Regions from separate parts of the Homo sapiens genome. Here region 1 is linked to region 2. The links come from fine-mapping of genetic effects on gene expression. A gene starts in region 2. The other region holds a variant in brackets. All regions are shown on one strand. Distances are between the middles of the regions.

What was found.
Region 1: its variant is fine-mapped to the expression of ANKRD55 in whole blood (TOPMed, PIP above 0.99).

Annotation. Positions count from the first base shown.
Region 1 is chr5:56,151,818-56,168,173 of GRCh38, reverse strand. ANKRD55 (ankyrin repeat domain 55) reads left to right here. Exons shown (of 12, transcript NM_024669.3): 6 at 8,281-8,341. Among named protein-coding and RNA genes, the nearest start is that of ANKRD55, 73 kb to the left of the region's middle. RefSeq lists enhancers at 7,315-8,110, 10,501-11,296 and a silencer at 11,287-11,456. The variant G/A (reference allele first, on the strand shown) is at 8,401.
Region 2 is chr5:56,226,047-56,242,402 of GRCh38, reverse strand. ANKRD55 (ankyrin repeat domain 55) reads left to right here and starts at 9,073. Exons shown (of 12, transcript NM_024669.3): 1 at 9,073-9,162; 2 at 9,457-9,547. The coding sequence starts at 9,490. RefSeq lists an enhancer at 1,048-2,247.

The DNA of each region.
Region 1 (16,356 bases), 74 kb after region 2:
TGACACAATTCATTTCTGCTCATATTCCATCAATAAGGACTAGTCATACAACCACATCTGGTTATAAGGTGCTCTGGGGAATATAGTTTCTAGCCAGGAATCTACCTCCCAACAATGCCTCCAATCCAAGAAAGGGGAACATGGATTTTGGTGAAAAGCTCTCTGTCTCTGTTCTTAACCCATTGCACCTAAGGGGTAAACTAAGCCTTGTCAGTCAAAATTACATTCAATGTCAATTGGATCAGTTGATTAGGTTCATTCTCTGAAATCACTGCAATAATAAATTGAAAATCAACCCAAGTGTACTTCCTCTTTGTGGACTTGTGTTTCTATTTCTTATTATGCTTATCAGTACTCCTCGACTCTTGAGGATCTACATTAAGTTGCTATAACTAGGAGAGCAGAGAGTTGTGGCTTCCCCTCTCTTGAAACTGTACCTAACAGCCCAGCCACCACCCTTGGATGAGTTGAAATAAGAAAAATAAACATCCTTCTGTGTGCAGATGACGTAGTTAGTTATATTGTCCAAAAAGCCCTTAACTGATTCTGAAAGATAAAATTCTGCTTTAGTTATGGCAATGCTAGCTGCTTTAACTAATAATCCCAAAAAGTTAAGATTGACTATTCCAAAACCAAAATTGTTATTTCTGGTAAATGCTCTCCAAAGATTAATTGGGTTAAGTCCTAACAACCATACAGCAAATCAAATAGAGTCACACGCTGCATAATGACATTTCAGTTAATGGCAGACTGCATGTGTAATGATGGTCCCATAAGATGATTATATCATATTTTTACTGTACCTTTTCTATGTTTAGATACATAAATACTTACCACTGTGTTACAATTGCCTACAGTGTCTAGTACAGTCACATGCTGTGCATATTTGTAGCCTAGAAGCAATAGGCTCTACCATATAGCATAGGTGTGTAGTACGCTCTACCATCTAGGTTTGTGTAATACACTCTATGATGTCCACACAATGATGAAATCGCCAAACGACACATTTCTCAGAAAGTATTCCCATCATTAAATGATGCATGACTGTAGTTTGGTTACCTACAGAATATTGGAAACTAGTCCACCCTAAAGGATTCCCTATGGAATTACATTGTTAAAATTACATATTTTATAGTTGTTTGAGAAATTTTAGGTCCATGGCAGAGTTTGATACATCTGCATTAAATGTTTAAAGTAGAAACCGAATTTATTTTAATGGCCATATTTTGACATTAAGCCCTTGGTCTCCGTTGAGAAGCCTTATAAGAAACAGTCTTACAAAACTTCCTGGCTCATGATTCATTAGCACCTCCGAAAAATTCTATATGAGAAACCACAAGAAATATTTCTACTGAAGAAGGAATTGCTATGCTGCTCCTGATAAATCATTTTTTTTAATTTTACTATACAGACACTGTGACTTCAGAGCATGTTTCTTTCTTTATATATTTAGAAAATTCAAAACTCAATTTGTGTCCCACCTCTGGCATACATGTAGGACTATAGATCATGTCTTTTTTTTTCCTGCCCGTGTTTTCTCTTTGTCTTGTTTCTTCACTCGTTATCTTATTTCACCATATTTGTCTGAAAACAATCTAAAATCCCTGAAGGGGCCAGGCATTGTGGCTCACACCTGTAATCCTAGTGCTTTGGGAGACAGAGGCAGGAGGATAACTTGAGGCCAGGAGTTCAAGACCAGCTTAGGCAACATAATGAGGCCTCATTTCTAAAAATGATTTTTTTAAAAAAGTAGCCAGGCATAGTGGTGTGCTCCTGTAGTCCTACCTATTCAGGAGGCTGAGACTGGAAGATTGCTTGAGCCCAGGAGTTCGAGGCTGCGGTGAGCTATGATCGTGCCACTGTAATCCAACCTGGGCGACAGCACAAGACCCGAAGGAAGGAAGGAAGGAAGGAAGGAAAGAAAGAGAGAAAGATAGAGAGAAAGAAAGAAAGAAAGAGAGAGAGAGAGAGAGAAGGAAGGAAGGAAGGAAGGAAGGAAGGAAGGAAGGAAGGAAAGAAGAAAGAAAGAAAGAAAGAAAGAAAGAAAGAAAGAAAGAAAGAAAGAAAGAAAGAAAGAAAGAAAGAAAAAGAAAAGAAAGATCCCTGAAGGGTGGCCAGGAGTGCCAGCTCATGAGTATGAGTCAGACTGACTGAGTTTAAATCTGGCTCCAGCTCTTATTCTCTTGGGCAAGTTAACATGTCAAGGCTCAGCTTCCCCTTGAAATAAGTACTATTTTTTTTTTTGAGACAGAGTTTCACTCTTGTTGCCCAGGCTGGAGCGTAAAGGCGTAATCTTGGCTTACCACAAACTGCGCCTCCTGGGTTCAAGCAATTCTCCTGCCTCAGCCTCCCGAGTAGCTGGGATTACAGACACGCACCACCATGCCCGGAAAATTTTGTATTTTTAGTAGAGATGGGGTTTCTCCATGTTGGTCAGGCTGGTCTCGAACTCCCAACCTCAGGTGATCCGCCCACCTCAGCCTCCCAAAGTGCTGGGATTACAAGAGTGAGCCACCACACCTGGCGAAGTAAGTACTATTAAATATATTATTCCTGCTTACTTCACAGGGAAGTAGGCAGAAGTAAAGGAGAAAATGTGTGGAAACGCTGAACTCAGCACCTAGTACATTGTCCGTGTTCAGAAAGTGAACATGGTGATGATGATGGCGTGATGATATGATAATGTTGATGGTCATCAATGATGATGATGATGGAAGATAGAAAGAAACACCATAAACATTATAAGAAGCTAAGGAATGAAACACTACTACTGCCACCCCACTGGTGCTCATCCTGGCCTTCTTCACCTCAGCACACTCAGGTCCACAAAAATGTGTGCACAGACACAGGCCCATGTAAATGCAGTCCTACATCCTACTGCCGGGCACACAGGTTTACTGCAATGGTTGTTGGGGTGTGTTGTTTGTGTGGATCTATGCACACCTTTGTAAACTGGCATATGTCTGCATTTTCCCCTAATCATAAACAGTATGTACAGGCCACATAGTGCCCTTGTGCTCAGGTTTTTATACTGATTTAAAATCTGCTAACACTTAGATTTCCAAACAGCAAGCTCCTTCTATTTGGTGCTCACTGGAGGTTATTCAGAGAGAAGCCTCAAACCGAAGCTGCTTATAAACAAGCTAAGGGACGCTTCAATTAGTCCTTTGCCTCCAGAGGGATTTTAGTGCTCAGATGGAAACAACTCCTGAACAAACCAAACAGTATGAATCTGCATCCTTAACTAAACACCCGCTCAATGGGGATGGAGGCTGATGCAGGGATAAGTGATTTATAATCATGAACGTGAAGGCACACTGGGTTTACAAAAGCAAAGATGCACAGGTTTCCTCTCATGATTCCCCTTCCTACTTTGAACCCTCTGCTTCTCAGCAGGTCCAAGTTTTCCCCCTTTCAGCTCCCCAAGGCTTTTCTTGCTTCCTTGGCTGGGACATTCAGAGGGCGCTGGTGTGAAAGAGGGGGCATGATCATTAAAACAAAGCTCCAAAGAGAACAGAGTTGTGTTTGTACAACGCTGCACATGCTAGTGTTGGAAGGCAAGCAGCAATTTTCTCTGAAAGCAGCCACGGGGCTCTCTGAAGGTCTTTTTCATGGTCTCCATGGCTACTGGCAGACTTTTTTTCCTCCCTGTCAGAGTGCCAGCCACTCTGCCTCTTTTCATCACTCTTGACTGCAGCCCAAGGGAGGAAGAAAATCATTTCCTTGGGGTCCTGTTCTCTAGTTACCAGGTGGTGTGTTCTGACCTGCAGTGTTTGTCTCACTGCAGCACACTCTAATACAGGCAGCTCCAGGGACAGGAAGGGGAGACGGCTGGTTGTGGGACCATTTTTTCCCACCTGTCACTGCGCTGGCCAGCTCCAGGGCTGGGAACATTCAGAGGGGCCAGCGAAACAGGAAAGCTCATAGGGATGAGTTGTCCCCAGGATGCTTCTAGCTGATCCTTCTCTGAGACCCACCATTCACCTAATGATAATCAGTGGAGACCCAGAAAATAGAAGGTAGGAGCTATTAAAAAATTAATCATTTTATAGAATTTTTTGTTTGTTTTTTGTTTGTTTTGAGACAGAGTCTCAAGCTCTGTTGCCCAGGCTAGAGTGCAGTGGCATAATCTCGGCTCACTGCAACCTCCACCTCCCAGATTGAAGCAATTCTCCGACCTCAGCCTCCCTAGTAGCTGGAATTACAGGTGCCCACCATCATGCCTGGCTAATTTTTCTATTTCTATTACAGACGGGGTTTCACCATGTTAGCCAGGCTGGTCTCAAACTCTTGACTTCAGGTGATCTGCCCACCTTGGTCTCCCAAAGTGCTGGGATTACAGGCAGGCGTGAGCCAGCGCACCTGGCCATATAAAACTTTATTATGGCATGTAAGGGCTATTCCAAGTGCTTTGTGTGCATGGAGTCAAAGTCATGACAGATCCTGAGGAAGTAGGTATTATTCTCTGCATTTTATGGATAAGAAAATGTAGGCACTGGGAGCTCGCCCAAGGTCACTGGCTGGTTGGTATGGAGCAGGGATTCTAACAGTGGCAGTCTGGCCCCAGCATCAGTGCTCTTATGACTCAACACACCACCTGTCTGGGACTGCTCTTGCTGGGGTCCAAGCCTGCTGTACTGGCACCTGAGATGAGATGGGTCTTACATCACTTACTCAGAGATCCGAGGACAGGAGGGAGTCTGAACTTGGCTGATGGGGGTGTAGAATGACTCCTGGGCCATGGTAACACAAAATGAGAGCTCGGGGGAAGCACAACAGAGGGCTGCAAATCATCTAGGAATTGACATAGATGCTGGACAAGTATCTCGCAGGTCACCTCCATACCACAGAACAGCAAGGAAGTCCCAGGCTGGCAATGAGACACCTGGTTTCTGGTTCAGGCTGTATCACTGAGCCACTGTATGGTGGTCTTGGCAAGCCAGGAAGGGCCTCAGGTTCTTTGTTCTCACAACATATGAGAGACAGCCAGAGCCAGAGTGAGGGCAAGAATGCAGGAGAGGGCCTTGATCTGTCTATTTGTGTCCAGCTTTGACGATCAATGGATCTCAGAGACTTCACAGTCAAGTGGAGTTGGGCCACATAGATCATCACATATCAGTCACAGCCATGACAGAGAAGACATGGGAATTAAAGGGTGGCAACTGGAGAAAGTCTAGGGAAAGACTATTTAAACTTGACCAACAAGGCTGGATAGGGTGATTCACGCCTGTAATCCCAGCACTTCGGGCGGCTGAGGATCGTTTGAGTTCAGGAGTTCAAGACCAGCCTGGGCAATATAGTGAAACCCCATCTCTACTAAAAACACTAAAAAATTAGTTGGGCGTGATGGTGCACACCTGTAGTGCAAACTACTCTGAAGACTGAGGCAGGAGGATGAATCGCTTCAGCCCAGGAAGTCCAGGTTGCAGTGAACTGTGATTGTGCCACTGCACTCCAGCCTGGGTGACAGAGTGAGAGCTTGTCTCAAAAAAAAAAAAAATTGACCAAAAATTGACCAACAAGAGATGATGGTTGATGTTCTAACCCCCTACCCCACCCCCACTTTCCCCAAAAGAGCAGGAAAATGTTATCACTTTCTAGACCTAAAGGGGCAAGGAAGGGGCTGTTACTGGAAACTTCTGAGAGCTGCAGTGGTAGCTTAGCTGTAGGAGAGGGGCCACCTGGCAAGAACTGAGGCCTTTGGTAGAGAAATACAATTATTGCCAGAAAGGGAGCTGGCTTCTCTCCCTCCTCCTGCCAGTTCCCCCATCGGCAAAACCCGATAGGAAGCCAAGGGCAAGGGAGCCTGGTTGATGCGGTCCCTAGAAGTCAGCCTCAGAGCAGGGCAGTATAAAGAAGAGAATGGCTTTGAAAGCCAAATAGAGAACTATCTAGGCACACGGTTCATCCCACAACCTTGGGAGGCCACCCAGGATATGACAAGAGGTCCTGCTCTCCCTACCCCCATTCTAATCTGGTTAGAGCCCCAGAAGATCCTGTCTGGCTACAGATAATCTCTGTCTGCTCAGGAGTAACCAAGGATAACCACACTGGACCACAGCTGACCTCCTGCCTTGCCCTTCCCTCCTCCCCCAGTCCCTCAGACCAAATGGGCCCTAGAGAGTAAACAATGGCCAATAATGAGCCAGAGAAGACAGAAAGGAAAGAAAGAAAGGAGAAGCACAGTCACAAGGTAAGCCCTGCCCCCACTCACAAAGCAGCCACAGGGAAATATATCCAGTGGTGAAATAATTGCAAAGATAAAAATTGTGTGACCCAAAATGCAATTATTTTTATATGTCTTCCTACCAAAGGCTACATCTAGAATTCAGAGAGCATAAAAGAGATGTACTGTATGCAGTCATAGCCATTGTCCCTTTAGTGTATGTGACCCAGGGTCTTTCTGCCTGTTGGATCACTCAATCCTTTACACCACTGCGTTACTACCCCTCTGATATACATGAAGATACAGAAACTCAGATCGTGCAGTAGTGAGGTCAGAATTAAACCTCAGCATTATCCTGGCTCCCCAAAAGACTATGATACAACAAGATTGAAACCACAGGCTTCCTGGTTATTTCACCTCCACCGCAAATAACCAGAAGTCCATCTCTATTTAAGCTCTCTGTGTATTACATTTACTGCTAAGGCAATATGATTAGTGGATCTTTCTTTTCTTCTATTGCAAGTAACAATTTAATACTTAGGGCTTTAGATGTCTTCCAATCTGAGAGACGATAAAGATTTGATTGGAGAAGAGACTAAACAATTTCATTTTACAAATAATTCTTCCAAAAGCAATTTCTGAATTTCCTCCATTGACTGCCCATACACTATTCTTTATCATCTTGATGAGTATCCATTGATTAATTCTTTCAGCACCTTTCTCAATTGTTTCCAAGCCTGGCTGTTTACCATAATTTCCTGAATAGCTTTTTTTAAACAGTAGAAGCTGGGCTTCTCCAGACCTACTGAGTTAGAAACCCTGAGTACAGAGTCCAGGTATTTGTGGTTTAAAAAAAAAAAAAATCTCTCCAGGCAATTCTGAGATGGAGCCAGGGTCCAAACTTCTGGGGTTAAGCACTCTAGAAATAACAGCATGTTCCAGGCATGCTCTATATGTTGTATGCATATTAACTCATTTAATCCTCACACTGAGCTGTGTGATAGGTAGTTTTTATCACTCCTATCTCACAGATGAGGAAGTTTAGGCAGGAAGAAGGTAAGTAACTTGCCTGAGGTCACAGAGCTCATCAGTGGCAGGGCTGGGATGTAAACCCAAGCCATCTGGCTGCAGAGCCCGGGCCCCTCTCCACTATGCTCGGCTGCCCCCCTCTCCCAGATGGAGCGTTGACTTCAGTCAACTGAGCAGGAGATCCAAGTCAGGTAAGAGCCTGAATCTGAGAATCATTGATAGCTGTTTTACACTGATTACTGTCATCTTGTGCTTAGGCATGTGTGTATTTTACAAAGAATGAGCAAACTTGCAAATACTGACAACCTCCTGGTATAATCTATGCATTAAAAAGGCATGACATATGCAGCTAGGAGTGAAGCAGGTCGAAAGCACTCTGTAAGTTTCTATAAAGTGAATCTTGTGCTTAGGCATGTGTGTATAAAGAATAAAGAATAAGTGGCCGGGCACGGTGGCTCACACTTGTAATCCCAGCACTTTGGGAGGCTTAGGCGGGCGGACCACGAGGTCAGGAGATCCAGACCATCCTGGCTAACACGGTGAAACCCCGTCTCTACTAAAAAATAGAAAAAATTAGCAGGGCGTGGTGCGGGGCGCCTGTAGTCCCAGCTACTCGGGAGGCTGAGGCAGGAGGATGGTGCTAATCCGGGAGGCGGAGCTTGCAGTGAGCCAAGTTCGTGCCACTGCACTCGAGCCTGGGCAACAGAGCGAGACTCCATCTCAAAGAAAAAAATCATAATAATAATTGCTACATGATTTTGGATCTTAAAGGGCATGGCTAGGAGACAGAGGCCTGGTGAACACAATGAGCCTAAAGTTTCTCCATCCCCTTGTGCCCCTCGGGAGTGCTGAGATGAAGAGAGGGTGGGAGAGGCAGACAGTAGCCCTCCACACAGGTGTCTTCTAACCTATCACACTCTTGCTTCTTTTCTGTGGATCTTTTTCCCAGAGAAACGGAAAGGGCCCTCATCTTCATTTGGAGTCTTTCAACTGACGGTTTTTCTAAGGTCATGTTTTTATACCGATTCCAAGAGCACCGTGACTGCCTGTTATTTTGAGCCATTTCTCCTATTTTTTCCTTACAGGCTCCTCACGGTCCTGTTGCAACAGTCGAACATCAGCGAGATTAATCACCAGGACAATGAGGTGAGCCACACTCTCAAGCAACAAGTGGTCATTTTGCATGTGAGGGTGAAAGGAAGGGC[G/A]TTTCTGAACCATTGTGCTTCCTCTTAAAAGCTACGGGGAGACATGAGGCATGGTTCTGTGTTCCTACCCTGAAAGGGAGACCTGTTTTCACTATTAATCCTCAGCAGAAACTTATCCCCACCATGGGTGTGTGTAGCTTCTGATAGGGAAGGACTTTATTGCATTAAGTACTTCAGCATTTATCATACGACTGAAATTTTGTAACTTCCCTCTGGACATTGAGAAATAAATATTGCTCTCTCCTGTCTTCTCAAGTCCCAGAAACTTAGTAGCAAGCGGTGGCTCAAGACGTGCTCTCTTTTTTTTTTTTTAAGATGGAGTTTCGCTCTTGTTGCCCAGGCTGGAGTGCAGTGGCACCGTCTTGGCTCACCGCAACCCCCGCCTCCCAGATTCAAGTGATTCTCCTGCCTCAACCTCCCCAGTAGCTGGGATTACAAGCAGGCGCCACCACACCCGGCTAATTTTGTACTTTTAGTAGAGATGGGGTTTCTCCGTGTTGGTCAAGCTGGTCTCAAACTCGCGACCTCAGGTGATCTGCCTGCCTCGGCCTCCCAAAGTGCTGGGATTACAGGCATGAGCCACTGCACTCAGCCTAAGACATGCTCTCTCGTGTAAGATGGCAGAGAGGTGGGTGTAGTGGCGCGTGCCAGTGGTCACAGCTACTCAGGAGGCTGAGGTGGGAGGATCACTTGAGCCCAGAAGTTTGAGAGTCCAGCCTGGCAACAAAGTGAGACCCCCCTCTCTGAAGAAAAAAAAGAAAGAAAAAGGAAAACAATGACAAGACTGGACACTGGCTCATGCCTGTAATCCCAGTGCTCTGGGAGGCCAAGGTGGGAGGCTCACTTGAACCCAGGAGTTTGAGACCAGCCTGGGCAGCAGAGCGAGACTCCATTTCTACAAAAAGTTTAAAAAGTAGCTGGGTGTGGTGGCACATGCCTATAGTCCCAGCTACTCTGGAGGCTGAGGCAGAAGGATCACTTGAGCCCAGAAGTTCAAGGTTACAGTGAGATATGATCACATCACTGCACCCTAGCCTGGGTGACAGAGTGACATCCTGTCCCCCTCCCCTCCAAAAAGAAAAGAAAAAGATGACAGAGAGATAATATTAATAATTCCGGGTTACCTGCTCCAGACATCACATTATTAATCCCAGTGATCGTAACTGCTGTTTAATTCATGTTGCAAGTAGAAGGCTTCCAAAAAGGTCGTTCAACACTCTTCAACAAAGTTCTTGAGGGAAGGTGGCTCAGACACTAAGCAGAGCTGTCCAAGAGTAGCTTAGAGTCTTGTTAGATCTGCTTAACTCTTTTAAAATGCAGTACTAATTTTCCTTAGCCAGGCTGATTTCCTTAACAAGGTTCTTAAAATCAATTTAAATACCTGGTTTTCAATGGAATTTTAAAGTAAATATGTGCTTGGTTTGGTTGCATTTCACTAAGAAAGTCTGATAACATTAAAAATGTACATACACAAAGATGCCGATTACATTATTTTCAAGGAAGCTAGGTGACCATAGGCAAGGGGGCGGGGGTAAGCCTCCTAATCACTTTCTTCTGGGGCAGATGCCCCCGCATCTGCCTTTTTTTTTTAAATAGACAGATTCTTACTCTGTCGCCCAGGCTGGAGTACAGTGGTGCAATCTCAGCTCACTACAGCCTCCGCCTCCCAGATTCAAGAAATTCTCCTACCTCAGCCTCCCAAGTAGCTGGGACTACAGGTGTGCACCACTATGCTCGGCTAATTTTTGTATTTTTAGTAGAGACGGGGTTTCACCATGTTGAGCAGGCTGGTCTCAAACTTGTGAGTGAAGGGGTGGCCTGCCCCTCCATACCTGTGAACGTTTCTCGTCAGGTGGAACGAGAGACTTGAGAAAAGAAAGAGACACAGAGACAAAGTATAGAAGAAGAAAAGTGGGCCCACGGGACTGGCGCTCAGCATAAGGAGGACGCGCGCCGGCTCCGGTCTCTGAGTTCCCTCAGTATTTATTGATCATTATCTCTACCATCTCAGAGAGGGGGATGTGGCAGGACAATAGGGTAATAGTGGGGAGAGGGTCAGCAGGAAAACATGTGAACAAATGTCTCTGTATCATAAACAAGGTTAAGAAAAAAGTGCTGTGCTTTTGATGTGCACATACATAAACATCTCAATGCCTTAAAGAGCAGTATTGCCGCCAGCGTGTCTCATCTCCAGCCCTAAGGCGGTTTTCTCCTATCTCAGTAGATGGAATATACAACTGGGTTTTACACCAAGACATTCCATTGCCCAGGGAGGAGCAGGAGACAGATGCCTTCCTCTTATCTCAACTGCAAAGAGGCCTTCCTGTTTTACTAATCCTCCTCAGCACAGACCCTTTACATGTGTCGGGCTGGTGGACGGTCAGGTCTTTCTCTTGCCATGAGGCCATATTTCAGACTATCACATGGGGAGAAACCTTGGACAATTCCTGGCTTTCCTAGGCAGAGGTCCCTGTGGCCTTCCACAGTGTTTTGTGTCCCTGGGTACTTGAGATTAGGGAGTGGTGATGACTTTTAACAAGCATGCTGCCTTCAAGCATTTGTTTAACAAAGCACATCCTGCATAGCCCTAAATCCATTAAACCTTGAGTCGACACAGCACATGTTTCTGCGAGCACAGGGATGGGGGTAGGGTTACAGATTAACAGCATCTCAAGGCAGAAGAATTTTTCTTAGTACAGAACAAAATGGAGTCTCTTATGTTTACTTCTTTCTACATAGACACAGTAACAGTCTGATTTCTCTTTCTTTTCCCCACAGTGAGTTCAGGTGATCTGCCACCCTGGCCTCCCAAAGTGCTGAGATTACAGGTGTGAACCACTGCGCCCGGTCCACCCATCTGTCTTGAGCCTTCTGATTAAAGGCCTCCCTCTGACTAGCATTAATGACCACATCAGAAAGCCCCTGCTGCTTTCACTCCCCATATCTTCAGTGGTTTAAAGCAAAACCTCAGAGGAAAGAGGGTTGCACTGTTAGAAACTTCTGCTTTAAAGATGAGAACCAGAGATGAGGTAGCACACTCTGGTCACTCTGCCCATGGTGTCGAAGCAGGGAGCTGGAGTGGCGGAGTCCATGTCAGCAGATTGTGAACCTCTAGATTTCAGGGCAAGTTGCCAACTACTTCCTCCACCTCCAACCTCTGGGGTAATCCCTAAACTAGGTCTTATTTAGAAAGATGACAAATTTGCTCATTTATACCCTAAAGCTAAATTCCACTTATAGACCTACAACTCCAGCACCCCTCAGTAGAACTAGCAACCCCCCAGCAAAGACATAGTTCCCTATTTTTCTCCACCCCAGGAGGCACCTGGCGGTGCAGACAATGAAAGCAGACATGGATCTTTCTAAGAGTGGTAATTGTAACACCTTACATAGAATATGTGGTAAATATTGGAAAAGTCCCTGGTTCCTCCTCATGCAAAGGGACTTCTGCAAAAAGATTCCTCCTGCTATTACACCAGCATATGGACCCGTTGGGTTTTAAGCCCAGAAAGCAGACCCAGCAGAGCAAGGGCCTCAACAAGGCACTTCCTACCCATGGTCACAGCTTCCTCTTTGGTCCATTCACAGCCTGCTGTCTGGAATCCATCTGAAACCAACTGCTAATGCTTGCCTGTGTTTTTCATACACATGGACTCCGCCACTCCGGCTGCCTGCTTCCACACCATGGGCAGAGTGACCAGAGTGTGCTACCTCATCTCTGGTTCTCATTTTTAAAGCAGAAGTTTCTAACAGTGCAACCCTCTTTTCCCCTGAGGTTTTGCTTTAAATCACTGAAGATTTAAAACAAAACATAGGGATATATATGTGTATGTATATATTATGTATCCATATATGTATGTGTATGTGTATATATATGTATCTGTATATAGATATATACATGGTTTTGGTTTTTTTTTTTTTTTTGAGGCAGGGTCTCATTCTGTGGCCCAGGCTACAGTGCAGTGGTATGGTGCGATGTCAGTGCACTGTAACCTCCGCATCCTGGGCTCAGGTGATCCTCTCACCTAGCCTCCTGAGTAGCTAGGACTACAGGCAGACACCACCATGCCAGGCTAATTTTTCCATTTTTAGTAGAGATGGCACTCATATAACTCTGAGGCACTCATAATTTTGTTTTTGACTGAGCTCCTGTACTAGGTCAACAGACCAGGCCAAATATCAAAATGGAGTCCCTCATACTTAAATTCCAAGTTACCAAACTGAGACCGAGTTGTTATCTGACCTTCTGAGAAATCAGGAGAGAGATAACACCCAAATTTCCCAAACAGGCTAGTTTTACTTAGCATAATAATGAAATTTCCTCTGCTTTTAATCCTGACAACAAAAAGTAACCTAAAGTAACCTGATGTTAAGCAATCAGTTTTTTCTCTGTTGTTCTGTTTCCCTGTTCTCATCTTTCATCTTTCAAGGAAAGTAACTTTGAAATAACCAATCTGCTTTTTGTTCTTTGCTTCTGCTTTTTTCAGTCCTTCTCTGTCTACAAAACCAACCTCCTCTGCTGGGCTCGTTGGAAAACTTTTTTTTTTTTTTTTAAGACAGTCTCACTCTGTCACTCAGACTGGAGTGCAGTGACACGATCACAGCCCACTGCAGCCTACTGCCTCAGCCTCCAGAGTAGATGGGACCACAGAAACCCTGCACCACAGGCATGCACAACCATACCCAGCTCATTTTTTGTTTTTGGTAGAGACAGGGGTCTTCCTATGTTGCCCAGACTGGTCTAGAACTCCTGGATTCAAGTGATCCTCCCGCCTCAGCCTCCCAAAGTGCTGGGATTATAGGCGTGCACCACCATGCCTGGCCAGAACATTTTGGAATGAAGCCCAGTTCTAGAATTGCAAATGAAGCCAGTTAAGATCTTTGAGGCCCGGCTCCACGGCTCACGCCTGTAATCCCAGCACTTTGGGAGACTGAGGTGGGTGAATCACTTGAGGCCAGGAGTTCAAGACCAGCCTGGCCAACATGGCCAAACCCCGTCTCTACTAAAAATATGAAAATTAGCCGGCTGTAGTGGCTCATGCCTGTAGCCCCAGCTACTCCAGAGGCTGAGGCAGGCGGTGGAATTGCTTGAACTTGGGAGATGGAGGTTGCAGTGATCTGAGATGGCGTGACTGCACTCCAGCCTAGGCAACAGAGCAAGACTCTGTCTCAAAAAAAAAAAAAAAAAACTTTAAAACTAAATCTTCTGCTGTAATTCCGTTTTTGCCAATTATTTATTTTATTTAGTTATTGGTCATTGCTAGTGAGAGCCAATCACGATAAATTTATAACAGCAAAAGCTCTTGCCATTGAGAAATAAATACAATTCTGAAATGGAAAGAACACAGCCCAGGCTTTCTTTTTCATTCATTACTTTGGTGGAGTTCCTGTATTTGGCTGCTCAATGTTTTGAACAAGTAATCTTCTCTCGTCTGTCTTTTTTCAACAAGCTCCAAGCATGATGTAGCCTCCATTGTATGAGGGGTAGCGGGGAGTAACAGTTAAATTCATTGTTTAAAAAAAGGTACCACTCTATGTGTTCTGCAACTTTTTTTTTTTTTTTTTTTTTTTTTGAGACAGAGTCTTACTCTGTTGCCCAGGCTGGAGTGCAGTGGTGCGATCTTGGCTCACTGCAAGCTCCACCTCCTGGGTTCTGCCTCAGCCTCCGAAGTAGCTGGGACTACAGGCACCCGTCACCACGCCCAGCTAATTTTTTTTGTATTTTTAGTAGAGACGGGGTTTCACTGTGTTAGCCAGGGTGGTCTCAATCTCCTGACCTCGTGACCCACCCGCCTCAGCCTCCCAAAGTGCTGGGATTACAGGTGTGAGCCACCACACCCGGCCTAACTTAGTTTTTTCAACTCAAGCATTTGTCTTAGAATTTTTGATACATATAGATCTGGCTCATTCCTTTTTTGTTGTTGTTGTTTTGTTTTTTTCGAGATGGAGTCTTGCCCTGTCCAGGCCGGAGTACAATGGTGCGATCTCGGCTCACTGCAACCTCCACCTCCCGGGTTCACACCATTCTCCTGCCTCAGCCTCCCGAGTAGCTGGGATTACAGGCACCCACCACCACGCCCAGCTAATTTTTGTATATTAGTAGAGACAGGGTTTCACCATGTTGGCCAGGCTGGTCTCGAACTCCTGACCTCGTGATCCACCTGCCTCGGCCTCCCAAAGTGCTGGGATTACAGGCGTGAGCCACGGCACCCAGCCTGTGGCTCATTCCTTTTAATGGCTTCATCATGTTACATAATATCAAAATACCCCCATTTATTTTGCCATTCCCCTATGAATGGATATTTAGGTTGTCTCAATTTTTCACCATCATAAACACCAGTCTAAAGAGTGTTTCTTGTACAAGCCTCTTTGCATACTCTGTGCAAGCATTTCTCTTAAAAGAATAATTGCTGGGTAGTAGAGAGTGTATGTTTTTATTTTTAATACACACTGCCTAATTATTCCCCCAAAATAGCTGCGTGTCGTTGTTGTTGTTGTTGTTGTTGTTGTTTTTAGTGGAAGTACTGGTTTTTTCCCAGTTGTTGCTGGATTTTCTTGTTATTTGCATTTTCCCTGATTAATGAGATGAACATCATTTCATAGACATAATGGTCTTTATTATATCTTCTTTTGTGACTTGCCTGTTTACATTCTTTGTCGATTGATCCATTGGGTTGTCATTTTCTTATTGATCTATAGGAGTTTAGTTTATATGCTGAATATTAATGCTTTGCTGTTGGGTTGTAAATACTTTTTCGTAGGCTGTTGGCTATTTTGAAATAGTTCATAGTACCTTTTCTTATTCAGAAATGTAAAAATCTGATATAATTAAAATGATCATTCTTGTCTGTTTCTGCTTTTTCTTTTGATGTCTTTTTAAAGAAGGCCTTCTCTACCCCAAGAACTGGATTATGTTATGTTAAATTATGTTTTTGTTTGTTACCAGATTTTTTTTAATATATGGTTTCATTTTTGAACTCTTTGTTCTGTTCCAATGATCTGTTTGTTTTTCCTGTTTCATTAACCACACTGCTTAATTATAAACTGACTTATTTAGAAGTTATCCACACTGCGGTTAACACTGAAAAAAGCAAGATAGGTCAGATTGTCCTTTGTGCTTTTGTTCTTCAAAACAGGACCTCAGAAGAATCATTGACATAGAGTGAGGCTTGTCTGTTGCAGCTACCGGGAGTTAAATGGAAACTAACCTCTCCTGCTCTCATTTTAGCCTTGACAGGAAGAGTGTTCTATCAAGAGAGGCTCTGAGCTGTTGGCATCTGGGTTAGAACTTTGAATGCATTTAACCAGAGAAGCACTGTTATGCACAGCATTTAGGATATATATATTGTTTAGGATATATTAAATGCACATTCTTATGTAAGCAGATTTTTGTGAGCAGTCTGACAAACAAAACTTCAATTGTAGAACCACTCTGAGAAAATAAATTTAAGTTGCAAAAACAGATGTGACCTTTTGGACATAATTCTTAGCATCACTTCTACTTACCACATTCCTGAGATAGAACCAAAAGCAGAAGAAACAGTCCCTGACTTGAAATTTTTAACTTTACAGTTAGCAAAAGGTAACATAACAAACAAAAGTTTTTAATGAATCAGAAGTTTTAGCCTAAGACCGAACATCTAAAAAAAAAAAAATGGAGTAGGGTCACCACTACTTAGGAGCCCCCACCTCCCTCTCCCACTCTCCTCCAACCCTATAAACTTCTAGAGGCAGACCATGCCTTTTTTTATCTTTGTATCCCCAGTTTCTAGTTCAGTAGCTTGCACAAAAGCTTTAGTGAGGCACAAAAATTTTTTATATATATATACACACACATATATACATATATACATATATGTGTATATACACACATATACGTGTGTATGTATATGTATATATACACACGTATATATACATATATATACACACACACATATATATATATAGATTTTTTTT
Region 2 (16,356 bases):
TCCCCATTGTCTTAGCAATTAACATTTGGTTCCTCATTACTTCTGCAAATTTGGGTTTTTCTTTTTCTTTTTTTTTTTGTTTTGTTTTGTTTTGTTTTTTGTTTTTTGTTTTTGAGACAGACTCTCACTCTGTCCCCCAGGCTGTAGTGCAGTGGCATGATCTCAGCTCACTGCAACCTCTGCCTTCAGGGTTCAAGTGATTCTCCTGCCTCAGCCTCCCAAATAGCTGGCATTACAGGCATGTACCACCACACCTGGCTAATTTTTGTATTTTTAGTAGAGACAGGGTTTCACCATGTTGGTTATGCTGGTCTCGAACTCCAGACTTCAAGTGATCCATCTGCCTCGGTCTTTCAAAGCTCTAGGATTACAACCATGAGCCACCACATCTGGCTGGAAAATGGGTTTTTCTTTTCTAGTGCATCATCAGGCTGCAAATTTTCCTAACTTGTATGCTCTGCTTCCCTTTTAAACATAAGTTCCAATCCAAACCATCTCTTTTTGAATGCATAAAACTGAATGCTTTTAAAAGCACCCACATAATCTCTTGAATGCTTTGCTGCCAAAACATTTCTTCCACCAGATACCCTAAATCATCTCTCTCAAGTTTAAAGTTCCAGAGATCTCTAGGTCAAGGGCAAAATGCCATTAGTCTCTTTGCTAAAGCATAGCAAGAGTCACCTTTATTCCAGTTCCCAACAAGTTCCTCATCTCCACCTAAGATACCTCAGCCTGGACTTCATTGCCCATATCACTATCAGCATTTTGGTCAAAGCTATTCAACAAGTCTCTAGGAAGTTCCAAACTTTCCCACGTTTTCCTGTCTTCTTCTGAGCCCTTCAAACTGTTCCAACCTCCACCTATTATCCAGTTCCAAAGTCACTTCCACATTTTTTGGTATCTTTATAGCAGCTCTCCACTCTCTGCAGTACCAATTTATTGTATTAGTCCATTTTCACACTGCTGTAAAAAACTGCCTGAGACTGGGTAATTTATAAAGGAAAGGAGTTTAATTGACTCGCAGTTCAGCACAGCTGGGGTGGCCTCAGAAAACTTACAATCAAGGTAGAAGGCAAAGGGGAAGCAAGGCACCTTCTTCACAAGGTGGCAGGAAGGAGAAGTGCTGATCAAAGGAGGAAGAGCCCCTTATAAAACCATCCGATCTCGTGAGAACTCACTCTCTATCACAAGAACAGCATGGGGGAAGCCACCTCCATTATCCAATTACCTCCACCTGGTCTCTCCCTTGACCTGTAGGGATTATGAGGATTACAATTCAAGGTGAGATTTGGGTGGGTACACAAAGCCTAACCATATCAGTATGTTATTTGTACATCTACGTATGAGGGGTCTTCAAATAGTTCATAGAAAATATGTTTTATGAAAAAACTATGTATGAATTTCAAGTTTTTTACACCAAAATAAACTCATACTAACATATCTGAAATAGACTCATACTAACATGTCTGAACAAGATCTAGTTGAAAGCACTAAGAAGCTTAAGATTTCAGTTTGAAAAGAGCCTCTATCAGAGCAACATGAATTCTGCTAAAAACAAAAACAAATGTTAAATTTATAGTCAAGCTTGAGTGAAGAATGGTGAAATCATTGATCCTTTATGAAAAGTTTATGAGCTCAATCCTGCTAAAATTGAAACAAGAACAAATATTATATTTATGGGGAAGTTTGAGTGGAAGAATGGTGAAATCGTTGATCTTTTATGAAAAGTTTATGAGCTCAACGCTCCCAAAGAAATCAGTCGTTTATCAATGAATAACTCATTTTAAGAAAGGACGAGATCACTTTGGAAATGAAGCCTGAAACAGTAGATCATCCATTTCAATTTGCAAGGAAAAAATTCAACTTGTTTATACCTTAATTGAAGAGAAATGACGATTAACAGCAGAAACAATAACCAATAACATAGACATCTCAATTGGATCAGCTTACACAAATCTGACTGAAAAATTGAAATTAAGGAAACTTTCCACTTGATGGATGCATCAAATAGTAGTTCTGTTTTAATTTATTTGAGAAATCTCCAAACTACTTTCCACAGTGGCTGCATTAATTTACATTCCCACCAATAGTATATAAGTGTTCTCTTTTCTCCACAACCTCTCCAGCATCTGTTACTTTTTGACTTTTTAGTAATAGCCACTCTGACTGATGGGAGATGGGTCTAATTGTGGTTTTTGATTTGCATTTCTCTAACGATTAGTGATGTTGAGCATTTTTTCATATGCTTATTGGTTACGGGTATGTCTCTTTAAAAGTGTCTATTCATGTCCGAGCACAGTGTCTCACTCCTGTAATCCTAGCACTTTGGGAGGCTGAGGTGGGCAGATTGCTTGAGCTCAGAAGTTCAAGACCGGCCTGGCCAATATGGTGAAACCTCATCTCTACAAAACAGTACAAAAAAGTTAGCCAGACATGATGGCATGCACCCGGAGTCCCAGCTACTTTTGGGGCTGAGGCAGAAGGATTGCTTGAACCTGGGAGGTGGAGGCTATAGTAAGTTTAGATTGCACCATTGTGCTCTAGCCTGGGTGACAAAGTGAGACCTTGTCTTGGAAAAAAAAAAAATGTGTCTGTTCATGTCCTTTGCCCATTTTTTAATGGGATTTTTTCTTGTTTATAAATTTGTTTAAGTTGCTTTTAGATTCTGGATATTAGACCTTTGTCAGATGCATAATTTGCAAACATTTTCTCCCATTCTGTAGGTCGTCTGTTTACTCTGTTGATAGTTTCTTTTGCTATGCAGGAGCTCTTTCATTTAATTAGGTACCATTTGTCAATTGCTTTGGTGTCTTTGTCATGAAAGACAACATAGGCATAGGCATATTTGTCAGGGCCTATGTCCAGAATGTTATTTCCTAGGTTATCTTCCAGGATTTTTTATAGTTTTAAGTTTTACTTTTAAGTCTTTAATCCATCTTGAGTTGATTTTTGTACATGGTGTAAGGAAGGGGTCCAGTTCCAATCTTCTGCACATTGCTAGCCAGTTATCCCACCACCATTTATTGAACAGGGAGTCCTTTCTCCATTCCTTGTTTTTGTCAACTTTGTTGAAGATCAGATGGTTGTAGGTGTGCAGCATTATTTGTGGGCTCTCTATTCTGTTCCATTGGTCTATGTGTCTGTTTTGGTACCAGTACCATGCTGTTTTGGTTACTGTAACCTTGTAGTATAGTTTGAAGTTGGGTAATGTGACGCCTTCAGCTTTGTTGTTTTTGCTTAGGATTGCTTTGGCTATTCAGGCTCTTTTGGTTTCATATAAATTTTAGAATCGTTTTTTTCTAATTCTAAAAATTTTTCTAATTTTTCTCTAATTCTGTGAAAAATGTCATTGATAAGTTGATAGGCATACCATTCAATCTGTAAATTGGTTTGGGCAGTATGGCCATTTTAACAATATTGATTCCTTCTTATCCACAAGCATGGAATGTTTTTTCATTTGTTTGTATCATCTCTGATTTCTTTCAGAAAAGAATAATAAAAGAATCTGTTTGAAAGATAATTCTCATTATAGAGCTCTTTCACCTCCCTGGTTAGCTGTATTCCTAGGTATTGCGTATGTGTGTGTCTGTGTGTGTGTATATGTATGTGTGTGTGTATGTGTATGGCTGTTGTGAATGGGATTGCGTTCTTGTTTTGGCACTCAGCTTGGATGTTGTTGGTATATAGAAATGCTACTAATTTTTGTACATTGATCTTGTATCCTGAAACTTTGCTGAAGTTGTTTACCAGATGTAGGAGCTTTGGGGCAGAGAGAATATGAGGTTTTCTAGGTATAAAATCATATCATCTGCAAACATAGATAGTTTGACTTCCTCTTTTCCTGTTTGGATGCCTTTTATTTCTTTCTCTTGCCTGATTGCTCAGTCTAGGACTTCCAGTACTATGTTGAATAGGAGTGGTGAGAGTAGGAATCTTTGTCTTGTTCCAATTCTCAGAGGGAATGCTTCCAGAATTCAGTACAGTCCTGCCTATACTGGGTTGCCCATTCAGTATGTTTTTGGCTGTGAGTTTGTCATAGATGGCTCTTATTATTTTGAGATATATTCCTTCAATGCCTAGTTTGTTTAGGGTTTTAAACATGAAGGGATGTTGAATATTATTGAAATTCTTTTCTGATCTAGTAAGATGATCATGCGGCTTTTGTTTTTAGGTCTGTGTATGTGATGAATCATATTTATTGATTGGCATATGTTGAATCAACCTTGCATGCTAGGGATAAAACCCACTTGATTATGGTGGATTAACTTTTTAATGTGCTACTAGATTCAGTTTGCTAGTATTTTGTTGAGGATTTTTGGATTTATGTTCATCAAGAATGTTGTCTTGTCACCTGAAATAAACTGTTTCTGGTGGTCTTTACTAATAGGTATTGAGAGGAAAAAGCATTTGCCAGAGCAGTAACTGCATACTATGTACCAGAGAGTGTTTTAATTTGCTCAAGGAATAAAACCATATCTGAACAACAGCTGCAATTGGAGTTGCCACCTGGTTAAGCTTACTATAATCCACTGTTATTCTCGAAGATCCACCTGTCTTCTGCCAAATTGGAAAGCATATTGGAGAGTTGAATGGAGATGTGGTGGGAATCACCACCCCTGCATCCTTCAGGTCCTTTATGACCTCTACAGTTCCCCCAGAAATGTCGTATTGCTTTTGGTTTAGTATTTTCCTAGGTAGACACAGTTCTAGTGGCTTCCACTTGGCCTTTCCCACCATAATAGCCCTTACTCCACGATTCAGGGAACCAATGTAGAGATTCTGTGAGCTGCTAAGTATGTCTATTCTAATTGTGCATCCAGAACTGGGGAAATGACCACAGGATGGCATTGGGGCCCATTAGACCCACTGTGAGATGGATCTGAGCTGAAATCCCATTGACCGCATGACCTTCAAAAGTCCCTCCTCTGACTGGCAGGCCACAGTGATATTTTGAGTCTCCTGAAATTAGTGTCAGCTCAGAGCCAATGTCCAGTAAGCCCTGAGAGGTCTGATTATTTCTCTTTTCTCAATGCACAGTTACCCTAGTAAAAAGGCCATACATCTCTTTTGGGGAAAACTGAGAGAAAGATTAACAGTATAAACATTTAGTAGGGTACCAGGGCCTTTCCTCAAGGGCTCCAGCCTCCCCTTCATTTAAGGGGTTTTAGGTTTGTAAACAGGCTCAATTCTGGGAATTAATTGAGGGATCATGATTCTCTGTTTTTATGATTCGTGTTAGACTTTTGTCACTTAACCTAGAGCTTTTCTGCTTATGCAGATTAAGAATTTCATAGGCTTCCTATCTATTTTACTTTGAGAAACGCCATGATCAACTAGCCAATGCCATAGGTTTCTATGACTCAGACAACTCTGATTGCTGCTTGGACCTCTGCTGTCCATTACAGCATAAACCAAAGAGTGACTGAGGTAGATCTTAATTGACTGCAGGTTTATTTTGCCAAGGTTGAGGATGCAACCAGGAAAAAGAAACACAGGTCACAGTGGGATCTGTGACCTGGGCTTTTTCCAAAGAGAGTTTTAGGAACTTCAGTATTTAAAGAGGACAGAGCAAGCAGAAGAGGAGGGAAATAAAGGAGAGAGGATAGGCAATGAAACAAGTGGTCACCTTTTTGTGAGGCTCTGATTAGCACTCAGTGAGTCTACATATTACATGTGGAAAGAGGGAATAGAGTTGGCCGGGCGTGGTGGCTCATGCCTATAATCCCAGCACTTTGGGAGGCTGAGGTGGGCAGATCACCTGAGGTCAGGAGTTTGAGACCAGCCTGGCCAATACGGTGAAACCCTGTCTCTACTAAAAATACAAAAATTAGCCGGGTGTGGTGGTGGGGGCCTGTAATCCCAGTTACTCGGGAGGCTGAGGCAGGAGAATTGCTTGAACCTGGGAAGCAGAGATTGCAGTGAGCCGAGATCACACCACTGCACTCCAGCCTGGGCAACAGAGCAAGACTCCGTCTCAAAAAAAAAAAAAAAAAAAAAAAAAAAAGAGGGAATAGGGGAAAAAGCAATTACACATTTCTCTCATGCCCAGTAACTCTACATATGATAAAGTCAGCATGTGAAAATACAGCTATCTGTTTGGGAACGAAAGAAGACAGCTTTTTGCATGACTCAGTTCTCAAGCTTAAATTTCCCTGTGGCATAGTGAATTTGGGGTGCCATGATTCTATTTTTTTTCCACAACAGTAACTATGCCCACCTTGTCTTTGGCAGTTGAGTACCACCACTTAGCCCTACCATCCTAGGATCCAATTATTCCCACTGCATTTAGGTTTCCCAATTCAATGACTGCAGTTCTCACTGTCTGCAGAGAAGAGCAATCACAGAACTCTTCAAAGATGCTGGGGTTCCCCTCACAGATTTATTCCTATTCCTCACGGTACTGCTAAAAGTATGTCTTCTAGACCCTCCAGTGTGGGTGAGTAGTTCTTAAATGACAAATCCACTCTGACATTCCAATCTCCCTAAGCCTTTGAATCTCTTCCACATTAAACCAAGGCAAGTCCAGTATTTCCAATTTGCTCACCCTGGGCCACTTTTTGGTCCATGTTTCAACCCACTAACCTGACTGTTAGAACACTTTATAACTGCCTGAGCTGCAACAGTAAATGCAGAATTTCTGCTTAATTAGTTAATATCAATAAATTCAACCTGATCTAACTTTATGTTCCTTTCACCATTATTTCACTCCCTTAGTATCCATTCCCATGTTTCCTGGATTTTTAGGAAGTTCAAGTAATTATTTTGGAATATAATGTACTTCATGGGTCACACTTTGCACCTCACCTTTAGGGGCTGCTGGGACTTGAGTCTAGTTATAGGTCTAGAAGCAGAGGAACAATGGTGGTGGCTCCTGAAGAGAATCAGCATTGTTGTGCACGGCAGCTGCCTCAAGGAAGGCCAATACAGTTTCCTCAGGCAATTCAGAGTCAATCTTCTCAGACTGAGGTGAAAAGGCTGCTACCACTGGAGATGGGGAGGCTGCTTCTACTAGGGATTGGGAGTCCACTTCCACTGGCAAAGAAGACTCCTCAGAGTTTAGATGCTCAGTGTCCCCCAGCTTCATCAGGGTCTTCTCACATGTCTCTATCCAATTTACAGTATCCTCTACTTTCCCAATCAATGTCCTCACTTTAACAGCAGACATCCTGTGAAGCTGGGAGTTTGACTTGCGCTGTAATTCAGGAGTTCAATTTGCATTGTAATTCAGGCAGCTGCAGCATGAGAGCCTGCATTTGATTGCAGCATCCTCAGCCTCATGGCTACAGGAGGTAAGACTCTCCTTCAGGGTACACATACACACCTCCAGGTCATCTATATGGCACCTGAGCTGGGAATTAGAATCCGTGAGCTAATCCTTTTCTTTCATCACTTTGTCCAGTGACATTAGGAGCAACCAGCCATATTCATTAAGTTTCCAAAAATGTTTGAGGGTATCATCTACACAGTCACCCAACTCCTTGCCTGTTGTGTCCAGTGATTAATTAGGAATATTCAGTGCAGCTTTTTGCATATCTCTATTACCACTTCACACCATGGACTATCAATGCTCTCTTTACTCCTAGAAATAAAGCTATTAGAATCCTTAAATTTAATCAGATTTGAGAGCCAATTCCAGAAACCCTAGAACCAATCCTCAAGTACATGGTTTCTTGTTTAGACTAGAAAATTTCAAGGACTACAGAAGTTCTTGTCAGAAAGTTCTTACCCCATGAAGGATGGTTAATTGGGTTCCAATGTTACAATGTCAGTGAGCAGGTTGTCAGCTTGAGCAAGGAAAGTTCTTCAGTGAAGTTTCACTCATGCACTGAAATGTACTGAGCACCTCCTTTGTGCCCCTCTCTGTGCTAGGCTGTAAGGACATGGAGTGGACAAAGCAGACAAAGAAAGAGTAGACAAAGACCCTGCCCTTATGAAATGTACCCTCTTGTGGAGAAATATTTTAATTTGGGTTTCCGTAAAAGCAGACCCTGAGACAATGATTCCAATGCAAGTAACTTATTGAGAAGTGCAGGAAATATCAGTAGGAACGTGGGAAAGTAATACAGGGAGGGAACAGCAGCCCATAAAAAGAACGTTATTAGACCTATTCTCACAGGTGGCAGTGGAGTTTAACCCTGAAGGAGTTTAATCCTGAAAGGGAAATGGCAAACGGAGTAAAACACCATGCCTCAGAATCATCCTATCCAAGGGCAAAGGAAGCTGGTGTTTATTATTAGATTCAACAAGCATCTACTATATGGCTATTTGACTTATCCAAAAATCTGGTTGTGCCTAGAATATAGAACTTTGTTTGAATTTAGTATATCATATTTTTATTACAAATACAAGATAATAGATACTGGTTATTAACAAGCCAAAAATACAGAGATTGATACAGAACAAGTTAGAAATCTCCTACTCTAATCACAGTGGCCTGAGGGAACCAATATTAGCAGTTTAGTACGTATCTTTCTACATCTTTTTCAGTGTTCGTCTGAATATATAAAAATAATGTATACAGTGAGTGGTTTCCGGTTTTATTAAAACACGAACAAATGAAATATATAACTTGTTTATTTCATTTAACAATAGATTAGTGACATGTCACCAGATAAATACACAGATTTATTTATGTCAGATTTTTAAATCTAGAGTACGAATTTACTACCATTTACTTAGCTGCTCCCTGAATGAGGTACATTCGGGTGATTTTTCAGGTTTTACTACATGTAATGCTACAATAAACACCCTTGTGACAGCAGACTGTTTTAATTTTATCACCACAGACACTCGAGCCTTGAAATGTCACCTTTCAAATGACGCCTTTCCCCATCCTCCCTGTCAATTGGAGAACGGAGCTGAAAGGGGAGTGAAGAAGACTGCCAACATGGATAATTACTCCACACAGCACATGGCCAGCAGCCTCCTGCTACAATATTTACATCCTATTCCATTGAGATGGCACTCTCTGCTCACATGACCCAAATGCAGTTCTCACTCCGCCAAAAGCACAGCCGAATGCGAACTGCATTGGCAGCTTTGCACATGCTCTGTCTGGCCCTGTGAATCCTCACTCACCCATTCAGATTTCTGTTGGTGTAAAGCGACATTCCAGCTGCTGAAGCTCCGTGATCTGCTGTGTTTTTCCAGCCCAGATCCAAGGCAGGTGGCCCATACAATTTTACTATCTTTTTGGAGTTTGAGTAATTGTGTTTATTGATTTGGGGGTGGAGGGTGTATTATGCCCATGTACAGCTGATGAATGAGGCCATAGAGTAACTCTTTTCCTAGCAGGTATTTACAGGAATAGCATTTACCTATTTTCATCACCTTGCCTTGACAACAACCTGCAGCTCTGATGCACATTTAATCCTGAAACAGAGGTCTTGGCAAACGATGCTGCCTCTGACTGTCATGTTGACAGTAAGGTTTGAGATGGTGTTTTCTCCTCTCTAGAGACCTGGATGCTTTTTGCCATTCTGATGGTAAATGATGAGACAGGCTACCATGGATTTCAGCACCCCTTCTGTGTTTGATCAGCAAAGAGGTAAAATGCTGCTTTAACACATTCTTTGGTTGTTAGCATCCTTAGTCTCATGGTATGGATTTACAGTTGTAAGGAGAGAAAGAGAAGTGTGTGTGTGTGTGTGTGTGTGTTCATGTGCGTGGGTGTGCATGAGTATTTGCTATGTAGGATGTGGAAAGAGGATTTCACCTAGAAAACAAACCTGTTCAAAATGTTCACTTCTAGTTTGATAAGCATCTGAAACAGAAAAATAAGCTTATGATCTGTTGTATAAGCTTATGATCTTGTTGAAGTATTCCTACCTTCAAATTTTAAAAACTGGATTTCAAGCACACCAACTATTTCAGATAGTGTCATCTTTATTCTGTTTTTTCCAAATCTTTTTTAAAAATTAGGGTAAGCAATGTAAGAACACATCACATTTTTTTTGTCATTCGATTAGCCCAGTATCTCATTGCTGTATCTTCGTAAGCATTTTTTTATTCCTTTCAGGAATAGATGTTGCCTGTATTTATGTCGGGTTGATATGTTATCTCATCCAAGGTTGTGTAATGACATATCCCTATGCTATTATTTGCAATGCCAGGGTATATCTTCCTTACTTATAATTTCTGGAGTGGAGGTAATTTTCCACATCAAAATGTTGCTGTGAGATCAACTTATCCTTATAATATCACATATTTGGCCATGTGGTCTATGTGTATACATTTTGCATATGCAATGTGTTTATATACATCTTCGTGTAATACTTATGTGTAATAGTAAATCTTTTTTTAGTATAAACATGAAATTTCCATTTTATAAACATAATAAATATTTTTTAGAATCTTTTCTTAAATATCTATTATTTAAACCACTTTCTACAGTCTCTGAATATTCTTCAAGATCCTAAGTTCCTTTGGTGATTTTATCTGTTTTGGCTACAACATGAAATGGTGGTTTGAAAAAGCCTCATTAAGAAAATGTACTGCTTCATTCTTTTTTCCCTTTTCCTGCTCTAGGCCATAGCATGTTTATTACCCCTCAAGCTACATCTGGCTTTGTGGGTGAATTATTTTAGCCCAGGGGGTTTCTCCAAAAATAAATTTATATTTAGATTCCTGAGTTAGCTAATGTATATATGTGTATAGTGTGTTCTCCAGGTCTTAGCTCATTTGGAATAGTGTTTGTGTATGTGTATGTGTGTGTGTGTGTGTGTGTGTGTGTGTGTGTGTGTGTGTGTGCGCGCCTTCAGAACGTGCCGGCTCATACCGTGTTTGGATCTGAACAGCATAGAGAAAGGCGTTGTCACAGCTGTGCCCACCACCATCCTCTCCTCCTGGTACATTTTATATCACTGATGGCAGTCAGTAAAAGTGAAAATCTGCTAAGAACCAAAGAGCTCACACTGGCTGAAAAATGATGTTGCTAAGCCACGAAACATACAATGGGTTTATTTTTGAAGACTAATTGGAGGGAGCTGGGACTGACTGAAGAAGAACTAGCTCTTCATAATGAATTTACATGTTCCAGTGCTGTACCTTCTAACAGGATTGAGCCCCAAACATAGTTAAGATACAGAATTACAAGACTGATTTTCTTTTAACACCTTTCATGTGAGCAATTCACAGCAATTCCTCCACCTGGGCCGGATTCTCTCCCATGGAAGTTAACCCTCTCCCTGCCATCTTTATCTCTATTTCTCAATCCTTTCTCTCTTTCTAGAGGTTTTATCATATGATGGAAAGAGCATGGGATTTTAAATCTTATAGACGTAGATCAGAATGGCAGATCATCTACTTCTTAGCTGTGTGACCTTGGCAAGTTACCTAACCTCTCTGGGCCTTAGTTTCCCCAGGAATACAATGAAGGAAATGATGCTTACCTAGCAGGGTTGTTGTGAGGATCTAAAATAATAACATATAAAAAGCACCTGTTAGCAATGCCTGATATTCAATAAGTATTTTCCCATTTTGGCTGCAGCTGTTATTATTATTGCTGTTGTTATTATCACCTTGGACTGGGAGTTTCTGAAGTGCAAAAGACTACTCATCTCTCTACCTTCAGCCTGAATGTAGCAGTCCTCAGATCAAATGAGGGCTTAGTGCTGGATGACTAAATTACATTAATTATTTTTTTCAGAACCCTAGGATACCATTTATAGCAAGACCTAGAATAATAATTAACTAAGCCATTCCTGAATAGTTTTATTACCCATTAATCCTTCCTCTTTCTTAAAAGCATGAAAGACCATGAGGGTTGAGACCATTATACAGATTTTAAATACTATATTGTTGGACAAACCAAAGGGAGGTGACTTTCTCGGGAAAAGTTGAACATGGGGCTTTAGTTGAGGGTTTTTCATGAATCGTTACTGTCTGGATAAGTGAACCCTAGCAGTACTGTCTTTACATGCAGATGGGGACAGAAGACATTGCAGCTGGAAGAATCTTAGCAATCAAGTAACCTGTTGGTTCTCACATTGGCTGTACTTAAGAATCATCTGGGCCGGGCGCAAGGCTCACGCCTGTAATCCCAGTGCTTTGGGAGGCCGAGGTGGGCAGATCCCAAGGTCAAGAGATCGAGACCATCCTGGCCAACAGGGTGAAAGCCTGTCTCTACTGAAAATACAAAAATTAGCTGGGCATGGTGACACACGCCTGTAGTCCCAGCTACTCGGGAGGCTGAGGCAGGAAATCGCTTGAACCTGGGAGGTGGAGGTTGCGGTGAGCTGAGATCAGGCCACTGCACTCCAACCTGGCGACAGAGCAAGACTCTGTCTCAAAAAAAAGAAAAAAGAATCATCTGAAGAAATTCTGAAAATGCTGATGCTTGCATCCCACCCAGGGAGATTCCAGTTTAACTGCAGTGGTTGGCCCAACCAACACTCCTTGGGAAGTTCTCATGGACAGCAAAGATGCAGAACCAGTCATCCAACCTACCCCTCTTCCACATTTCAGATGAGGGAACTAAAGCACAGAGAGGTTCAAAGTTGGGTCCTTCCTAATAATAATAACAACACCCCACTAAATAGCAACAGAGGGGACTGAGGCCCAGGTGTTCTCCATCCATACAACAGGGCAATAGGAAGCTTCCTGCACATGGCCAATCCCTGGCCTAGCACTGACTCTGGCTCATGGCTGCCCAGAGAATGGTGGAAGAATATGATGCAGAAGGACCTTCAGGGCTCCAACGAGGTGGGTTTGGTAAGACTGAACCCCTCCACATGCATTTTCCTATATTTCTCTTTAGCTAGAGGCAACGAGGCATGCCAGGGTCTTGGTGACAGATGGTCATTTGCTCAAGTCCTGTCTCTGCCCTCTTCCTAGTTACATGAACTTGCACAAACTAGTTGATCTCCACTGGCTTCTGTCTCCTTGACTGTAAATGTGGATAATACTATATTACATATTCACAGAGCTGCTGGAAGGCCCAACGATCAGATCATTTGACTGGCCAGGGGCATGGTCTCTGGCTGGCTTTGCAAAACTGTGAGGGAGGAAGCCTGGGTCTTCAGAACTCTCGACTCTCTTTTGTGCCTTCAGCTTTCACCATAGCAACATCTCTTCTGGTCCCACGTGTTCTTTCCAGCTGTGTTCCCTCTCAAAGCCCACACACGCAGGAAGCGACCTGTAGTAAAGCCATTTACTACAGAACACAGAGGTTCCTGCTAAAGTCTACATATTATGTAACTGAAGATACTTGCATTGTAAGCTTTGTCACGACTTGTGGAAAGAAAAGTTTTGCTGCGCCTGAAAGAATCCCAAACCTGAGAGAGAAAACAGGGAAAAAAAAAAAAAAAAACAGGCGAGGGGTCGGCGGGAGGTGGGGGGATGGGTAGCCTCAGGGCCTCACCCACTCTTCTGTATTGTTGGGGGTGAGGAGGGCCTGGCCGTGCCAGGGTCTCTGAGGAAATATGCCTGACGAGGCTGAGCGGTGTGTTTGCACACACCTGTGTGGGCTGTGGTCCACCCTCTTGCACAGGTCGTTTCTCTTGTCGAGTTGCTGGAAAAAGAGAGGAAGGGCTTTGTCTTCTAGCCCAGATTAATAGAGTGTGTGATTGTCTCTGTGCTGCTGTAACCAATTATCACAAGCTGGGTAGCTTAAAACAACAGAAATTTATCCTCTCACAGTTCTGGTGCCCAAAAGTCTGAAATCAAGATGTCAGCAGCAGGCCGGGTGCAGTGGCTCATGCCTGTAATCCCAGCAGCTTGGGAAGCCAAGGTGGGCAGATCACCTAGGATCAACAGTTTGAGACCAGCCTGGCCAACATGGTGAAACCCTGTCTCTAGTAAAAATAAAAAATTAGCTGGATGTGGTGTCATGCGCCTGTAGTCCCAGCTACTTGGGAGGCTGAGGCACAAGAATTGCTTGAACTCAGGAGGCGGAGGTTGCAGTGAGCCAAGATCGCGCCACTGCACTCCAGCCTGGGTGACAGAGTAAGACTCCACCTCAAAAAAAAAAAAAAAAGTCAGCTGGGGGCCTTCTCCTAGAACCTTTAGGAAAGAATCTTCCCTGGTCCTTCCAGCCTTGGCTGCTGTGGCCTCATCACTCTGGTCTCTGCCACCATCTTCACTTGGCCTCGTCTGTGTGCATCGCTCCTCTGTGTACCTGTTTCAAAGTTCCTCTGCCTCTCCTTTAAGGATGCATGTGATTGCATTTAGGGACCACCCAGATAATCCAGGATAAACTCCTCCTCTCAAAGTCCTTGGCTTAGTCACATCCTTTCAGATATAAGGTCATAGTCACTCTCTTGCCATGTAAGGGAATAGCCACAGGTTCCAGGATTAGAGGTTAGAACATGTCTTTAGGGCCACCATTCAACCCATTGCAGGGAGTGAGAAGAGGTCAGATCCCAGAAAGCACGCAACACTGTGACTCGGTTTTTGGTAAAATCCATTCTCATTTAAGCTAGGAGAAAAATTGGCAAGTAAGAGGTGGGGGAAGCGGGGAGCATCTGTTTGGTGCAGACTCTGTGCAGGGCTTTACATGGATACATATTGACAAGAGCGAATGTTTATGGAGCATTTAGCAGATCCAGGCTCTGTCCTAAGGACTGCACACAGACTAGCTCATATAATCCTCATATCAGCTTCACATATGACCCCCTTTTATCGATGAGGAAATTCAAAAAGGTTATGACCTACCCAATGTTGTCACAAAGTAAAACAGCAAAGCTAGGATTCCAAGCTAAATCTGTTTCACTTCAAAACCGGTGTTCTTTCTACTGCAGAATGTCTTTTCCTTGGCCAGCAATAAGGTTTAATAAAAAAAAAAAAAGACATCAATGGAAAATCAAATTAATGAAACATTTATTTTCACAATCAAGCTCTTATTCCATTGTGTTGTGGATTTTTAAAGTTCCCACGCACAGATGTGCAGGGGTTTTTTTGTTTGTTTTTTGTTTTCTTTTATACTTTAAGTTCTAGGGTACATATGCACAGTGTGTAGGTTTGTTACATATGTATACATGTGCCATATTGGTATGCTGCACCCATTAACTCGTCATTTACATTAGGTATATCTCCTAATGCTATCCCTCCCCCCTCCCCCTACCCCACAACAGGCCCGGGTGTGTGGTGTTCCCCACCCTGTGTCCAAGTGTTCTCAATGTTCAGTTCTCACCTATGAGTGAGAACATGTGGTGTTTGGTTTTCTGTCCTTGCGATAGTTTGCTCAGAATGATGGCTTCCAGCTTCATCCATGTCCTTACAAAGGACATGAACTCATCCTTTTTTATGGCTGCATAGTATTCCATGGTGTATACATGCCACATTTTCTTAATCCAGTCTATCATCGATGGACATTTGGGTTGGTTCCAAGTCTTTGCTATTGTGAATAGTGCTGCAATAAACATACATGTGCATGTGTCTTTATATCAGCATGATTTATAATCCTTTGGGTATATACCCAGTAATGGGATGGCTGGGTCAAATGGTATTTCTAGTTCTAGATCCTTGACAAATCACCACACTGTCTTCCACAATGGTTGAACTAGTTTACAGTCCCACCAACAGTGTAAAAGTGTTCCTGTTTCTCCACATCCTCTCCAGCACCTGTTGTTTCCTGACTTGTTAATGATTGCCATTCTAACTGGTGTGAGATGGTATCTCATTGTGGTTTTGATTTGCATTTCTTTGATGGCCAGTGATGATGAGCATTTTTTCATGTGTCTGTTGGCTGCATAAATGTCTTCTTTTGAGAAGTGTCTGTTCACACCCTTCACCCACTTTTTGATGGGGTTGTTTGATTTTTTCTTGTAAATTTGTTTAAGTTCTTTGTAGATTATGGATATTAGCCCTTCGTCAGATGAGTAGATTGCAAAAATTTTCTCCCATTCTGCAGGTTGCCTGTTCACTCTGATGGTAGTTTTTTTTTTGCTGTGCAGAAGAAGCTCTCTAGTTTAATTAGATCCCATTTGTCAATTTTGGCTTTTGTTGCCATTGCTTTTGGTGTTTTAGACGTGAAGTCCTTGCCCATGCCTATGTCCTGAATGGTATTGCCTAGGTTTTCTTCTAGGGTTTTTATGGTTTTAGGTCTGACATTTAAGTATTTAATCCATCTTGAATTAATTTTTGTATAAGGTGTAAGGAAGGGATCCAGTGTCAGCTTTCTACATATGGCTAGCCAGTTTTCCCAGCACCATTTAATAAAGAGGGAATCCTTTCCTCATTTCTTGTTTTTGTCAGATTTCTCAAAGATCAGATGGTTTTAGATGTGTGGTATTATTTCTGAGGGCTCTGTTCTGTTCTATTGGTCTATATCTCTGTTTTGGTACCAGTACCATGCTGTTTTGGTTACCGTAGCCTTGTAGTATAGATTGAAGTCAGGTAGCGTGATGCCTCTAGCTT